Linked DNA regions of Homo sapiens: region 2 is linked to region 1. Evidence: fine-mapped expression QTL. Tissue or cell type: neutrophils. Region 1 holds a variant in brackets; the other region holds the start of a gene. All regions are shown on one strand. Distances are between the middles of the regions. Region 1 overlaps AGPAT4 (1-acylglycerol-3-phosphate O-acyltransferase 4). Region 2 holds the start of AGPAT4 (1-acylglycerol-3-phosphate O-acyltransferase 4).

Region 1 (2,915 bases):
GGGACTTTTTCCAATGCAGATAAGAATTTAAGAGTCTTATGTTTCTACCAAATCTTTGTAGACAGTGTTATCTCTCTTTTGCAAAGAAGTGTGGACAATCAATTAGTGATTCCAGAAATCCTCTGGAAGTAAAATTGCTAAATGTCTTTAACTGCTTAAAAGTAGTAATGAAATCAGTCATTGAAGATATAAGAGCTCCTCTCGCTCCTAAATGCTCTTTTTGTATCCCTCTTCTCTCCAGTGAGTACCAGTGCCCTGCCTAACACAAAGACAGGATCCGTGAGAAAACAAAACTCCTGGGTTACGTGATCAGTCTCCAGGCTTTTTTGGGTACCAATTACCATGCAGCACGCTGGGCCATGCTGTGAAGATGCTATAAAGCTGGGTGAACACATTTAGTAAGAAGATAAAACAAGTGTAGTGCAAGGAATTTATGCTTTCAAAAAATATTTATCAGTGCCTGCAAGGTACAAAGCACTGCTCTCTATAGCTGGAGCCCTAGACAGAGATCCCTCCAACAAGCTCCACTTCCAGTGAATGGGGACCTGCGGAGGCGGAGAGAGATGACAGTAAACCACCGCCATAAAAAGTAAATGAATTAGTATGTTAGAAAGCGATATTCCTTTGATAATAGAAGGAAAGGTAGAATAGTAGAGGGGAAATGGGGATGGAGTGGAGGTTGGATATGGGGCAAGGAACATGAATTCACTGAGAGCAAGATTCAGTGACCCAGTGTTAGGGAAAGAGAAGTCCTAGGAGGAGGAGTTGCAGGGGAGAGAGGGATTCTGAGCAGCAGGTTGAGTGGGTGGGGACAGGAGTGTGGCCCCAGCCAGGAGTGGAAAACAGCCTGAAGCTTGAGTAGGAGCCCAAGGCTTAGCAAGACGGATGCAGATCATTCAAGGCATGCCTTGAAGACCTTTATCTTGGATATTCTTATGAGAGGTAGAACAATGAGAGCTGAGAGAGATGGTAATAACCCTTTCCTAGGCTTCATTATTAATATTTCCTCCACCTCACAATCCTGTTAGTCTTGTTCAAAACAAGGCTAGGCTGAGTTCCAATTCTAATAAGAAAAAAACTGAACTGTCAGAAAAACAGATTTTCTGAAAATCAAGTATATATTTTACATTTCAGTCTCCTTTTTTATATGAACGTTAGCTACCAAGACAAGCACTGTTACTAAAAGTAAGCTACTCAGTATTCAGAGACTCTCTCCAGATGCGCCCTCTGTGGAACTTCCCTAACAATGTGCTCTTGTACATTTATCATCTTTCTGGCTTTGGCAAGATCTCCCTTTTGTTCCCACCTTGAAGGCTTCTTGTTCTTAACAGCTCAATTAAACTCATGTACACACTTATGTATACAAATGCACGCACACACACCCACCCCCAACATCTGCAGGTTTAAGC[A/AT]TTTTTTTTTTCCATAATGTTCACAAAGTTTAAGACAAAACCCAATAACGCATATGATAACCACTGTCTCCTTAGGTCAAATTTGAATTCACTTAAAACAACGATAGCAAAAAAATACTTGCAATGAACAACTTGGTTAAAAAAAGGTAACTATCATTCATCACTTAGATCTTCAAGATTCACAGCAACAGAAAAACAATTCAGAAAAAAGAAATGCAAAAGAAGTCTATGTGTTCAAAAGAAAACTATTTGGTGCTGATTTATTTAAATAAAAAATTATTTCCCAAGTATTTACATAAGGCACAATAAAATTTGATTTGAAGTCTATCAATTCATAATTTGTAACAATTCAAGCCGAAGGCCAGGATGAAATGCACAGCTGCCTAACAGGAAAAAAATCATTAATAATCAGGTGAAACAATGTAATCAGAACTACCATTGGGGAACACAAGCAAACCCACACCAGAAAGAGTCCCTAAAACGGCAATCATGACCTTGTGTTAATTACTGGGGAAGAAAACGCACATCGAACAGGAAAGGCTGACTTTCAAGGAAAAAAAAGTGTAAACCAAATGAAAGAAGTTGGGTTGCCCATAAATCAGCTTGAAACCTGGTGATAAGTGGGCAGACATCACTTTGGTGCTAGAATGAGGCATTCCTCATCGAAGTGGAACTTTGATGAGTGACATGAGTTCCCCCACTCCAGCACCCTCTGGAGAAGAGCTGAGCAGAAAGCCACAATGAGGAATCCCAAAGGCTTGCTTGGAGGTGATGGCTGCTTTCTTCTCTACTGGGCTTGAATTAATCCATGGGCACCTATCAATTTCACCAACAGCTGTGACACTGTATGAGCCATGGAGCTGGATAAAAGGGCTTCATTACCACTCCTCTATGAGGAAAGCCTTGCCAAGCTGCTAGAAAATTTTTTGCAAATTTAGCTGTAAAATACGTTGATTGTTCTAACAAAGCCAGAAAGAGAAGGGAACTTTTCTGTTCCCTTTGTTGCTGATCCTGATACTCTGTTCCACAGCCTTGGGCATAATGAGGAGTTGGGACCAGTAGAACAGGGGGACTCTGAAAGCACAGACCAGGAGAGACCTGAATTGAGCATGTTCATAGCATGTTCATAGCAAGACTCCATGTCAGACCCGAACAGGCTCCTCGAGGGTCAGACAGGCAAAGCCTTCGATTTTCCCATGGAGATATAAGCCCCAAAAGAGCACGGAATGGGTCCTCATTTGTCTGTCCAGCTTTCGGAACAGTATGTACCTTAAGCAGGTGTTCAACCGACGTTTGTTGAATAAATGAATTAAGTCAATCAAGGCATAAATAGATGATTGGTCAGAGACCAGGCAGGATGTGATGAAGAACAGAAATATCAGGAGGTGAAACAGGGCACTGGTATGTTCACACCACAGAGACATAGATAGCCAAGACCCCTTTGTTTCGTTTTGTTTTGTTTTGTTTTGACTAAAATAGTTGCAACAGAGGTTATTCTTGGATTTT
Region 2 (2,915 bases), 66 kb after region 1:
CCCGCCTCCCATTTCCCTAAACACACACACACACACACACACACACAAACACACACATTCTCCCTTCTCTCAAGATACTTTTTTTCCAACTGAGAGTCGTTGACTAATCACAGATGAGTTAATCCTTCCACAGTTTTGAAAAAGTCTAGCAACCCTCACCTTGAAGAGAGTGAATAGCGTGGCTAATCCATCTAAGAACAATGCACGAAAACGAAAAACGGAGAATCCTGCCCGGCAGTTAATTTGTTACTCATACTTGTTGAACTTAAGATTTGGAGCTAAATAAGTGCAGATGAGAGCAAAGACCCATCTTTTAAATATTTAAGCTTTTAGGCAAACCTGGGCAGGCAATATCACATTTATCAGTGCGAATTCTCCAATGCTCTCTAAAACTTTATTTCAATGATCTCACCTCCTGTAAGGAATTAATTCCCCCTTAGCTTGACCACAGGATCAATATCTTATCTTAAGAAGTGTTTAGGTTTTCTAAAAAAAGACCAGACACTGAAGACTTACATAAACATCAAAGCATTCTTTTTTTAATTCCTCGATATGGAGAAATTCATAGGCCGAAAATTAGGTAAATAGAGAGGTAATTACCAATGCCTGTTTCCTTGACAACTCCCCTCCCCCACCCCTCCTGTGATAGGGAAAAACCAAAATGAAAGTGAGGAGGGGTAGCCACAAGCCATGCTGGATTTTAGCAAACCAAAGCAAGAAGCAGAGCAGAAAGCTGCAAACTAGACACAAAATACAAATAAATCAATGTATATCGGGGCTGCATATTGTGTAGTATTTTTGTGGTTGCCATAGAAACGTCAGCGACGGAAGAACATGTTGCATGACACAAAAGAGAGCAATATGTAATAGGAACATTCCCCCCACCACCACCCCCCGCCCAGCTTCGTCTATAGCAGAGAAAATGCTTTAGCCCCGGGAGGGGGCTGGGTGGGTGGGTAAATGAAGCCAGGAACAGCAGCTTGAAATCACAGCCCAGAAAGGGACGCTCACCCGGCCCAGCACAAAGCGAGGGTCCTTTTGTACCAGCAGAGCCTCTCTTCGCCTCCCTCCAGGCGCCCCCTGCACCTTTCCCCCGCCCGCCTTGCACTCCCCCCCCGCCCCCGGAGCCTACCCCTTCCAGAGGTCCTAAGGAAATCCAGCCCAGGAGAGAAAAATATGCTGGGAAGAGGAATGCAAACATCAGCCACACCCAGCGGGGAAGGTGCCTGCGAACGGCACCAGGACCACATACCTCCTTCCTGGCAGCCTTTGGCACATGGACTTAGAAACCAGAAGCTGAGATGGAGCCGGCTGGGTTCAGAAATTGCCACTAGTTTATAAGAGCTGTAAGTCAGCCAACACTGGAAAGAAAAAGCGAGACTCCACCCATGGGGTGGACCCTTCAGGAAGAAAAAAAAAAAAAAAGTGGTCCTCAGCTGACGTCTCTCCCCACCCATGTCACTTCCTTTTAAAGCTACAAGTTAGCAGTTGCCGAGAGGGAAGAGCGAGCTGGTGTAATATGAGTCACTCCCTTCCCCTTCCAATTAGTGTAAGGCAGTGCTTCAGTTGGCTTCACGTTTGAAATCGCTTTTGAAATCTGGCTCGGGAAGCTGCCAGGATAAAAAAAAAATGAAAGCCCCCTGGAAGTGGCCTTGCTTTCTCTCCCCTTTCTCCCAAATCCTGTTGCATCCCTGCGCCCTAACGGCTCCTCTAACCTCAACCCAGACTCCGGCTCCGTCTGTGTTGCAACCTGGAAATTGTCCTCAGTTGGCTCATTTTTAATTCAGCAAGCGTAGGATCAATATGCCCACCCTCAAAACTCTCCCCTCACCTCTCCTCGGTCCGCTGTGCTGGAAGGAGATTGCGTTGCACTCAGAAGAGTCCAAATCATCTTAAACAAAATAAGCCTCAGCACTCAAGAGATTGAGATGTTATGAAGTGGGATGAAAGAAGCTTGGAGGTCGATTGATGTATTTTCTGTTTTCAAACCTTAGCACCATGGTTGATTACCACTGCACAGGCGTGCACACACGTACTGTCGCATGCTCACATGCACGTGGCATTTACACAGGTGTATCAGAGAGGGTCTGGGCAGACCTTTATAGTAAAAGTGTCTTCACAATTTTTAAAAAGGGTGGGCTGTTGAAAGTCCAGAAATGCCAGGATCTAGAAAATTATTTCAATTTCAAAATACTGAGGTGTATTCCTTTCAAATGTCCACTATTACAGCCATTGTCAAAATAATATTTAACTATTTACTTGACTCCTGGGTTAACCTTGTTCTTTAGATGTTTATAATCTATAAAGGAAAAATACATGTGCTCACAAATAGCCCAAGCACATTGCAGAATTACTAACAGCTATGCAAGTGTCAAAACCAGTGTGTCATGAAGACAGAATAGAAAGTGCTTTTTTGATTGCGATGGGGGAAGGCATTGATCATTCAGGAAACAGGGTTTGGAGTGGGTCCTATGGGAGGTGGCATTTTTCTTGTCTGTGATGAGAGACGGGGAGAGTGAAGCAGAATGTGGTGGAAGAGAAAGGATATGTGAGGCAAACAAAAAAAGGATCAGAACAGAAACCCATTTGTAGCAATAACTTGTTTTAATATCCATGTGAAAATAAATTTGACCACAGAGTAATGCTTATAAAAGATTTTTATAAAAAGTTCCTTGTAGTCATCATCTCTCGTAACTTTTCGAACTATGTTTTACGACCCATGTGCTTCTAGATTTGGTGGAAACTTGAGTTTTTCAAAGTGTTTTTCAAGTAGAGTTACACTGTTTTTCACGGTTGAATTCTGAATGGTAATTTATTTCAAAACCTACAAATTGCATAAATTCCTGATAATGTTATAAGTACAGTCAGTGATTTCAGTGGAAATGATAGGAAATTTAAAATTTGGACAATTGTAA

Evidence for each region. PIP is the estimated chance that this variant, and not a neighbour inherited with it, causes the effect.
Region 2: AGPAT4 starts here. The variant in region 1 is fine-mapped to the expression of AGPAT4 in neutrophils (BLUEPRINT, PIP 0.95).

What each region holds. Positions count from the first base shown.
Region 1 is chr6:161,207,070-161,209,984 of GRCh38, forward strand. All of the region lies in intron 2 of AGPAT4 (1-acylglycerol-3-phosphate O-acyltransferase 4), which reads right to left. Among named protein-coding and RNA genes, the nearest start is that of AGPAT4-IT1, 47 kb to the left of the region's middle. The variant A/AT (reference allele first, on the strand shown) is at 1,410.
Region 2 is chr6:161,272,686-161,275,600 of GRCh38, forward strand. It overlaps AGPAT4 (1-acylglycerol-3-phosphate O-acyltransferase 4), which reads right to left and starts at 1,376. Exons shown (of 9, transcript NM_020133.3): 1 at 1,253-1,376.